Linked DNA regions of Homo sapiens. The protein of the gene in region 2 interacts with the protein of the main gene of each other region in a pairwise test. Each region holds a gene or a part of one and is shown on either strand. Other genes may lie near its edges. The genes, in order: GAB1, PTK6 and EXOC5.

What was found.
Region 1: the proteins of PTK6 (region 2) and GAB1 interact in binary tests that used the Homo sapiens proteins (3 or more experiments, as listed by UniProt).
Region 3: the proteins of PTK6 (region 2) and EXOC5 interact in binary tests that used the Homo sapiens proteins (3 or more experiments, as listed by UniProt).

Annotation. Positions count from the first base shown.
Region 1 is NC_000004.12:143,409,874-143,413,630, forward strand, and holds part of GAB1 (GRB2-associated-binding protein 1), read left to right. Parts: intron 1-3,757. UniProt on the Homo sapiens protein: Adapter protein that plays a role in intracellular signaling cascades triggered by activated receptor-type kinases. Plays a role in FGFR1 signaling. Probably involved in signaling by the epidermal growth factor receptor (EGFR) and the insulin receptor (INSR).
Region 2 is NC_000020.11:63,530,712-63,534,468, forward strand, and holds part of PTK6 (protein-tyrosine kinase 6), read right to left. Parts: intron 3,605-3,757; coding exon 3,441-3,604; intron 2,994-3,440; coding exon 2,840-2,993; intron 1,977-2,839; coding exon 1,815-1,976; intron 217-1,814; coding exon 35-216; intron 1-34. UniProt on the Homo sapiens protein: Non-receptor tyrosine-protein kinase implicated in the regulation of a variety of signaling pathways that control the differentiation and maintenance of normal epithelia, as well as tumor growth.
Region 3 is NC_000014.9:57,199,901-57,202,956, forward strand, and holds the end of EXOC5 (exocyst complex component 5), read right to left. Parts: 3' UTR 607-3,056; downstream 1-606. UniProt on the Homo sapiens protein: Component of the exocyst complex involved in the docking of exocytic vesicles with fusion sites on the plasma membrane.

The DNA.
Region 1 (3,757 bases), on a different chromosome or scaffold from region 2:
TGTTTTGTTTTTGAAATTTTACTTTAAAGAGCAATATAATCCTATTGATTGGATCTATGGTTCTTAATCATGGTGGCACATTAGAATCATCTGTTGAGTGTTTAAACCTGCCTATTCCAATCTTCACCCCACCCCCATACACTACAATTTAGTTGGCTTAAGGTGAAACCCCAAGCTTTTTTTTTTTTTAAGCAAAGCTCTCCGGATATTTCTAATGTGCATTCAGGGCAGAGAACCCATGGACTACCCCCGACCTCTTCTCTGATCTTCTCTCTTGCCTGCCCATATATTGGCCACTTCCTCAATAATTAGCTCTTCCAGTAAAGGTACAGGGAAAAGATGAGGGAATTTTGGCAAGCATCACACCAGGCATGTGAGCTGTCATTTATACCACAGAGAACTCACAAAACAGGGTGTACAGCAGTTACAATGTTTTTCTTTAAAGCTGAAGCCATTTGCTAGTTAGGTTAATTAGGCAAAATTTGTGAATTTGTTAGTAACGTTACAGCCATATAGGCAAAATTTGTGAATTTGTTAGTAATATTACAGCCATTAATGGCTTGGGGTTAATCCAGGTTAAAAAATGTTTCCTTCCCACCAAATAGTGGGACTCCCATCTGTACTTTCTTGCCAGTATGTACATACCCATACTCTAGGGTGTGTGATAAGCCTGCCTTAAGACCTAGCTTCAGTGTGACAGTTCTACAGGTGAGCATATCCAATTTGCTAAATACAGGAAATGTTTAAAAGAATAGTTCTTTTAAAATGATGTTTAAAAACATCTCTCTTATGTCTGTAGAGTTTTAAAAACAAATTAATTTGTTTACACACCTCTATGCTTGCCTGACCAATTCTTGAATGGGCTGGGCAGATCGCAGTTATATCACTATCCCTGCAATGCATAAATAGTATGAGAACTTCTGTATTTTTAATCCTTGCCTCAAACATTTTGTATTGCGTATTTAGCAGACATTGACTGAGCACCTCCTTGGCGCTAGGCAATGGGAAAGGAAAGAAGAAAGGTTAAAATGGCTCCAGCCCTCAGTACATTCAAATGCACAGATGTCAAATGATTTAGGAAAAAGGTGGAAATGGAGAGCTCAGAGCCAACTCGGATGGTGCCCCGAAGAGGGCTGAGCTAAATCTAGGGGGTAGATTTTGTGCCAAGGGGTGAGAGGCAGGACAGAGCAGAGTGTTTGGGAAACTACAAGTATTTCCAATGTGGTTGGAAGGCAGAGGGGCAAGAAGTGACGCTGGAGAGATTTAGGGGTGGAGATGGGGCGGGAGTTGATTGGAGGGTCCTGTGTACCCTGCCAGAGTTTGGGTTTTATCCTGTAGGCACAGGGGGCAGTCACTGAGCATAGGGAATTGGCTTCAGAATTTGGTACTTTTAAGTTACCCCAAAATCCAGACTTAACTGTTGACTTCTTGTTAACAAATTATTTGTTCAACTCAAAATTGGAGTGACTATTGCATATAAGAAATGGCTACAAAATAAGTTTTTACATAGTCCTTCTCAACTATGCAGACATCTTGCAAATTTCAGCTTCTTCATTACCTGCTCGTAATGGAAGTCTAGTCGTTAAAATGATTTTTTGTGTGAATTTCTTTTAAAATTACTTTGAGTATTTGGTTTTGAAGGTTTCTAGAAAGCCTGTCCTTTTTGTCTGCTCCTGCTCTGCAGGATTGGCAAGGCAGTGTACGGCTTTCTCTGGAGCTACCAAGGCAGCAAGGATAAAAATAGGACAAACTTTAAGAATCTCAGATATTTTCAGATAACAAAGACTGATTTATGTGGGCCCGTTTTGTGCTCTGACAAAACATAGAGACGCTTTTGTGCTGTGATTAGCAAGGGTGCTGATGTCAGTTCTCTTGTCGAGCATCAAGCTTTATTCTGTGGCTAAATTGTGCTTTGTACCATAATCCAGAGAACCTTTGTATCTGCCTTATTAAAGTGTGTAGTTTATGTAATTGCTTTTGTTTTCCAGCTTAATCTGTGCCAGATTCAATGAGGGTGACTCATTTTGTGACTGAGACAAACATTCACATTTGGACCATGTTAAAAATAAATAAATAAATGGCAGGTGCTGCTTGGCTAAATTCTGTGTTTTAATGCTGTAATTTCCTGCCGTAAGGGTTCACGTCTTGTATAATGTCTACTCAGCCTCTGTAATCACTAGCCCAATATATCTAATGCACCTCAATTCATTGCTACTCATTTCTTGATTATTTATTTTAGTTCCTAAGGGCTTTTTGAATTGTAACAATGTGATTTCAACAGGGAAGCCAAGGAATGGATGGGGGGGAGCCACAGTTAGCCGGAAAACAAAGAGTGACACATAAGCTGTAGCAAAAGGACATGTTCTGTGCTTTTCTGTTTTTGCCATTTTCCCAAGATGTTTTGTGCATGTGTTTTGGTAAAGTTGTCTTAGTTATGTTTATTTTATTATGTATATGTTCAGTATTGGAGCTCTTTTTCTCAAGTGGAAGATGCTTTGAAAGCACTCTCTTCATTGTGGCCCATGTATCAAATCTAATCTCAAAAATTTTACAAGTCTACTCTCTCAGGAGAATTCTGTTTATTTATTGTACAGATATGCTATGTACTAGGCACTGTGCTATGGCAAATAAAGCAGGCGTGGTCACTATCTTCTTGAACTTTTCAGTCTGTTTGGGGAGTTACGTACTACACAAATAAATACAAAGAAAAATTGAATTGCAAAATTACACAAATCACTACGTAGGTAAGTAATAGGATCTCTAAAACTATGCTATTAGTTTACACTGGAGTTGGTTGCATTGAGGGTGGTCAGGGAAGAGAAGCCCTGAAGGTTGGAGTTGGCCAGGCAAAAAGTGAGGGAAAGAATATAATGTATTTAGGGGAAAACATGTGCAAAGTCCCTGAGGCAGGTAAGAGTTTAGCCTCCTATAAACCCTATTATTGGAGGGGGAAAAGTGACAGTTGATGGAAATTGAGAGAAAAAAGACAGGAAACTGTATTTAAAAGATGAACTATACAAGCATAGCAATATGGTACTATTTATTAATAGTATAGGGGCAAATGACACTCTATACAGTGCAACAGCCTCTGAGAGTCTCCTGAAGTGCAGTATAGAAATGGATGCTTACAATACTTAGTCTGAATCATTGGGGAATGGATTATGTTTGGTGAAGTATGTAGTAAAGCATTTTAGAAAGATTTGCGTGCAAGACAATAAAGTTTTAAAAAGTCATTTCTGTATTTAAAGATGAAGCTTCACTATCTGGAGAAATCACTTACTGAATGATATGATTTCTTGAGGGCCCTGCATAAATAACATCATATTTTATATTCTTTTGCTTTACTTCTGCATTACTTTTTAAAGCTTACTGCTTGAGAGGGAAGTATCCATAGAGGGATAATTTTACTAAGAGATGATATTTATTTATTTTGCAGTAAGTAGATGCATATTCAATGAATGGATTTTTATAGTCCAGAAAACAGTGCTAAAATCATGTGAATCCAACACTTTATGACTTTTCAATATTATCTAAAACATCTATAGGACTCTACCCTGCCTTCCCTGGACACAAATTATATACTTATTCCTTTGAGCTGCGTGAAGAATGAGAAGTTAATTTAAAATGTTGATGATTAAAGACCTATATAATGTTTTTAGGCCTTTGTGATCTCTGGTCATCCTCTTGTTAAAGGATTGCCTAAATTTTTCTGTAGAGGAATGCTTGTTCATGTAGCAATACCTCTGCAGACATTTTG
Region 2 (3,757 bases):
CCACGACCCCAGCCACGCCCTCTGAGGGCCCTACCTTGATAAGCCTGGCTAACCCGAAGTCCCCAACTTTGCAGAGGGTGTTTTCCCCGACGAGGATGTTCCTGGCGGCCAGGTCCCGGTGGATGTAATTCTGCGACTCCAGGTAACACATGCCCTCAGCCACCTGCCAGGCGATGTCCAGCAGCTCCGAAACGGGCAGGACTTTCTCATCAGAGTCTGCAGAGGGGAGTGGAGCAGAGCCTGGGGTCAGCTGAGCCAGCTGAGGTGGGGAAGGGTTGGGGAGGCTGGGCCATGTCTCATCTGCCTCCAAGCTCTGCGGGCTCAGAGGAGGGGCCGGGGCAAAGGGCAGCTGGCCTGATTGAAAATTGGAACTGCAGGCCAGCTACCGCCCTTCTGGAAGGCAACTGTTTATCACGAACCAAGGAGCAAGCTGGGCGTGGTGGCTCACGCCTGTAATCCCAGCACTTTGAGAGGCTGAGGCGGATGGATCACGAGGTCAGGAGATCGAGACCATCCTGGCTAACACGGTGAAACCCCATCTCTACTAAAAATACAAAAAATTAGCCGGGCGTGGTGGCGGGCGCCTGTAGTCCCAGCTACTCGGGAGGCTGAGGCAGGAGAATGGCGTGAACCCGGGAGGCGGAGCTTGCAGTGAGCCGAGATCACGCCACTGCACTCCAGCCTGGGCGACAGAGCCAGACTCCGTCTCAAAAAAAAAAAAAAAAAATATATATATATATATATATATATATAATTAGCTGGGCGTGGTGACAGGTGCCTGTAATCTCAGCTACTCAGGTGGCTGAGGCAGGAGAATCATTTGAACCCAGGAGGTGGAGGTTACAGTGAGCCGAGACTGCGCCATTGCACTCCAGCCTGGGCGACAGAGTGAGACTCCGTCTCAAAAAAAAAAAAAAGAACCAAGGAGCAGTTCCTAGTGGTCTAGCCCAGCGATTTCCCTTCTGGAAGTTTGTGATGACGCGGGAGGAGCTGGACGCAGAAGGACCAGCGAAGAGGCTCATGACTGCGTGATGTAGGCAGTGGGAACTCGAACAGGAGAATGGCTGTCAGCGGCTTGCGGCCTGGTGGTGCCTGTTTTACCCCACATTCCCTCCCGGAGGACCCTGAAGGGCGTGGGGACTGTCTGAGATGATCAAGCCCTTTGTGTGAGGGCGAGGGGTACGGAGCCTTTCGCTCAGAGCGCAAACGTGCGTGGTGCCTCAGTGTAGCTCTCCTCAGACACACACGGCATTTTTCCTATACCACAACGTTCCCTCCCATTCTAACATCGGAATCCAAACTGCGCCTTCACGCACGGGCATCTCCATTCCCTGGCAGCGATTGTCTTTGGTTTTGGTGAGAAAGGAAATAATGGAACTTAGAGAGGATGAAGTCTTTGAGCCAATGTGATCTGTGTGTGTCTGTGTGTGTGTCTGGATCAGTGTGTGTCTGTGTGTGTGTGTGTCTGTGTGTGTCCGTGTGATCTGTGTGTGTGTCTGTGTGTGTCCGTGTGATCTGTTTTGTGTGTCTCTGTGTGTGTGTCTGTGTCTATGTGTATGTCTGTGTGTGTCATGTGATGTGTCTTGTGTGTGTGTCTGTGTGTGCATGTGTATGTCTGTGTGCATGTGTGTGTGCATGTGTGTCTGTGCGTGTGTGTCTCTGTGTGTCTGTGTCTGTGTCTGTGTGTGCATGTGTGTGTCTGTGTGTCTGTGTGTCTACGTGTGTGTGTGTGTAGACGTGGGGGGGGGGTGTGCACTTTATTTCCTCACGTGCCCCCGCTGCCTCCAGCAAGAGCCCCGGCCCATGCCACTCACCGCGGAGCAGCTCCAGCAGGCTGCCCTTGGCCATGAGCTCCGTGATGATGTACACGGGGTCCCCCACGGACACCACGGCGTACAGCGCCAGGATGTGTTTGTGCCGCAGCTTCTTCATGGCCTGGATCTCCGACTGCAGCATCTGCTGGTGCAGGAGGTTGTCTGCGGGGACGGGTGGCCTCGGTGGATGCAGCCCCTGACCCCCCAGGCCCCAAGGAAGAGGCCAAGGCCCTGCCCCCACACACAGCAGCCATCACACCCAGCAGCTGTGCAGGACACACAGACCTCCTGCCCCCGACAGGGCACCTGGCTCCCGAGGCCACGAAATGGCAGATGCAGCCGGCCCCACAGGGCCCCAGCCTGGCGTACCCACGGGGCTGTGGTGGCCACCCGATTTCTTCCTGTGCCCGGCCCAGACCTCTGACATAGAGGCCAGACCTCTGCTGGGGCCCAGACGGGTTCCAGGGAAGTTTTACCCATTTCCAGTGATCTATTTTAATGGCTTTCCATTACGTCAAGGATTTTAAATTTTCTTTCTTTCTTTCTTTTTTTTTTTTCCCAAGACGGGGTCTTGCTCTGTCGCCCAGGCTGGAGTGCAATGGCGCGATCTCAGCTCACTGCAATCTCCGCCTCCTGGGTTGAAGCGATTCTCCTGCCTCAGCCTCCCGAGTAGCTGGGACTACAGGCACATGCCTCCACACTCGGCTAATTTTTGTATTTTTAGTAGAGACGTGGTTTCCCCATGTTGGCCAGGCTGGTCTCAAACTCCTGACCTCGTGATCCGCCCACCTTGGCTTCCCAAAGTGTGGGGATTACAGATGTGAGCCACCGTGCCCGGCCTAAAATTTTCTTTTATAATAAATGTATTTAGGTAAAAACATAGGTGCAATTGAAAGGGAACCACTCTCGCATGGACGCTGTGGGTGCTGCTTGGGGCTCGAGGCCAGAGGTCCCTGTTGGCGGGGTGGGAGGGTGGCCCAGGGCAGGCACGGGGCCACACAGAGCCCTGATCGGGGCCCACTCACCTCGAGAAATCACCTTAATGGCCACCTGGACCCGGTCTTTCCAGAGCCCCTCGAAGACCTCCCCAAAGTAGCCGGACCCCAGCTTCCTGCAGAGCGTGAACTCCTCCCTCGGCCTCTCCCAGTCATCCCAATGGGGCAGGGGCTCAGGCTCGTGCTGGAGGAAGAGTCGGGGACACAGGGCAGGGGCTCATCCTTCAGGAAGTGCCAGTCTGAAGCCAGCACAGGGAGCCTGGATTTAGCCTCAGATTTAGGGCCACGATCAGCCTGGGTTGGGGGTTTCTGAGTGTCTGACACAAGGGTGGACTCTCCTGGGGGCTGCCCCCAGCCCAGCATGAAACACCCAGACAGACCGGAGCCAGGACCCTGCAGAGTGCCGCTGGCCTCTCCGAGAGTGGCCAGGCCCGGGGATGGTCTCCTGGCCCCACCCCCAACTCAGGCAAACACCTGTGCTCTGCAGAACCATGGGCTTCCCTCCAGTGGGCCCCAGGTCAGTGAGTCAGGACCCCTCCCATGCTGCCCGGCCAACCTCTCCCAGTAGGAAATGCCAGCCTGTGACCCCCCAGCCTGACCCCGCGTGACCAAGTCAGGGCGGAGCGGCTACCTTCCGGCAGGGCGCGGCCAGCCGCAGGCCGTGGGACAGGCTCTGGGCCCTGTGGTAGTTCACAAGCTCGGGCAGGCTGAGGAAGGACACCGCCTCGTTCAGGTGCAGCCGGCCCCCGGCACGCCGCCAGATCTTGTAGTGCCGCACAGCCTGCGTGTCCCGCACTGGGAGGGAGAGCGTGAGCTGTGTGGCCACCCCAACTCCGACGCCTCCCTGCGTCCCCAGCCCTGCTGGCCACACCTGCGCAGAGTTTCTGGGTCCCCACAGTTGCTGTTGGTGCTTCCTCAGTACCACCCCTGCCTCCCCTCCCTCAGAAC
Region 3 (3,056 bases), on a different chromosome or scaffold from region 2:
GTTGGCCAGGCTGGTCTCGAACTCCTGACCTCAGGTGATCCACCCGCCTTGGCCTCTCAAAGTGCTCGGATTATAGGCATGAGCGACCACGCCCGGCCTAAAGGCTCTAAATAAGCTAACCCCAATCCAAATATTCGTTTTAACTTGCCCTTTTTGATGGACCCCACACATTGAGCTCTACTCACACAGCAGTTTTTCCATTCAGTGATATACCAGTGACTCATGCCTCCACACCCTGCAAGTATAAGTTACTTCTGCCTAGAATTCCCCTTCTCCTCCACCACTGATGAAATGCTACTTGCCTTTTTAAAGCTCAGCTGAAATGTGACCTCTTTTATGAAATCTTCTTAGAGGTAACAGAGCAAAGTGGTTAAAACATAGGCTATAGAAGCCTAAGGATGTAAGTTTGAATTCTATTACTTTTTAGATATATAATTTTGGTGAAGTTATTTAACTTCTTTGTGCCTCCATTTGACTCCTATTTCACATTAAGTTTATTGTAACATCTATTATAATAGATCCAGCCCAGAGACTCCTTTCTCACATGAAGTCTATCCTTCTTAGCATATATATTTTTAATGGCCTACAAAAACAACAATTGTATGATCATTTTTCCTTTGAACTTTATTAGTAAAAATATCCTATTGGTATTCAGTGCTTAATGGTCAGGTTTCCATTCATACAGTTTCTCTGATGCACTCTTATTAAATAGCAATTACAGTAGCAAGGAGATTGTATAATAGAAAAACATACGGTATGCATTTCAAATTTAATTCTTTCAAAATGTAAGTTCTGTGTCTTGGGCATAACACTTTACCCCCTCCTCAATTCAGCTTTACTAATTTGCTCACTACATTAAAAAAAAAAAAAAAAAACTTCCACCAAAAATATAGTTGTTTCTGCGTGATAAAATTGTAATTTTTAAATTTAATATTTTAAAATTTTTACAGGATTTCTGCAATGACCATTCTTATTCCCTCAATTTGGTCCTAAAGCCAAAACTTCAAGAGCTATGTGAGATGAGGATGGTCTCCTCCAGAGAGAGGGGAAGCCCAGTATGGAGTATGGAAGCTCAAGTGAGGTGAGGAAGATGTTGCAGAGGGGCGCATGGGTGTGGGTGTATATTTAAAATATGCGTGAGTGTGTGTGTGTGTATGCACACATAAAGCCCCCTAGCATTATCTATTGAGAAAGAGTAGGGTGAGACATCTCAATAATAATAAGCACATCTCATGCACAAATCTTGATTTCTAACTGCCAATTTCACTAAAAGGTGGAGGAATGGCTGATTCCAGAGCTGGGGCAAGGCAAGTACAAGATGACCTTGGAAAATCCTGTTGTGCCCAGAATAAATTGCTGTAAAAATGATGGGAACATGCCAAAACGACACAGGAGACAACCTGAAGAGGCTACTTCTGACCAAATTTGGGATAATTTGAGATTTGGTAAAATGACAGATTATAATTAGTTGAACAGAAAACTATGAATACATAGTGATATCAAGAGAATTCTGATTAGTATATATATATACACACACACACGTGTGTATATATACACACGCGTGTATATGTACACACACGTGTATAAACACACGTGTATATACACACACATATGTATATATATACACACACACCACACATATACATATATTTTTATATATATTAATATTATATATATATATATATATATATATATAAAGGATGGCTGGTTAAGGTGGCTCACACCTGTAATCCCAGGACTTTGGGAGGTTGAGGTGGGCAGATCACTTAAGGCTAGGAGTTTGACACCAGCCTGACCAACACGGCAAAACCCCATTTCTACTACAAATAGAAAAATTGGCCAGGCATGGTGGCATGTGCCTGTAGTCCTAGCTACTTGGGAGGCTGAGGTGGGAGAATCGCTTGAACCCAGGAGGTAGAGGTTGCAGTGAGCTGAGATCACGCCACCGCACTCCAGCTTGGGCAACAGAGCGAGACTCTGTCTGCAAATAAATAAATAAGGGGGACCTATATATGTCTGTATCTATTAATATATATCTACCTCCAAAATATTTACAAAGGGAAAAGTAATAGTTTTAAAGTGGAGAAGCCTGGTAAATAGTACCTTAAGAAAGTGATAAAAATGAACATCATCAGAAATGGGGCAAATTGAAATTGTGTACTATGTGATAGGATGCAACAATAACACAGAGTTGCATCCGTGGTATGTCTGCCAAAAAGCACAAACAGAATCTAATTACGTGGAAACAGAAATCCAAATGTAGGGGTGTTTTACAAAGTAACTACCCTATAATCTATAAAAATGTCCAGAGTCAAAAAAGTCAAGGAAAGACTGTGGAACTGTGTCAGAATGAATGAGACTAGAGCCACTACAACCTAAAGCAATACATGATTTTGAACTGAGATCCTTAAAAGGAATTAGGACAGCTAGTAAAATGATTGGTGTCTGAGGATTAGATAGTAGTAATATGTCAATGTTAACTTCCCAATTTTCATGTATTGTAGTTATACTGAAGCATTCTTTCTTCTTGGAAATACAAAAGTATTGGAGGGTGGTGCAGCATCATGACAGCGACTTATTCTCAAAAGGGAAAAATTTTATTTGTACAGTATTTACAACCCTTCTGTTAAGTCTGATTGTTTCAAAAATTTTTCTTTAAAAAGCAGAATGTAGAACACTAATCAGTAGATTCTTATTAGAGTTGATAAAGGAATTCAATGTGATATATAACTAAGAAAACATAATGTTAATCATGGTAAACTTTGTTCAATTCCTGTGTCCACTGTGCACATGTTCTTCAAAACTGTTTTGGTTTTGTTATTAATTTCCTTTGAAATTTTTCTCATGCAAGACTTTCAGAATCTTGTTTACACACATGCACACACACACATAATTGGGATAGCAAAATGTTCATAGATGCTGTAAAGTTGTGTGAATTCTATTTTTAAAATAAAAAAATGTACATATTACTATAAAAATAACTTCTCCCCCTTGTGGCAAAAATTGAAAATACATTCTACTGGAGAACTTAAGAGAGGCACTTAGGTATTATTCCT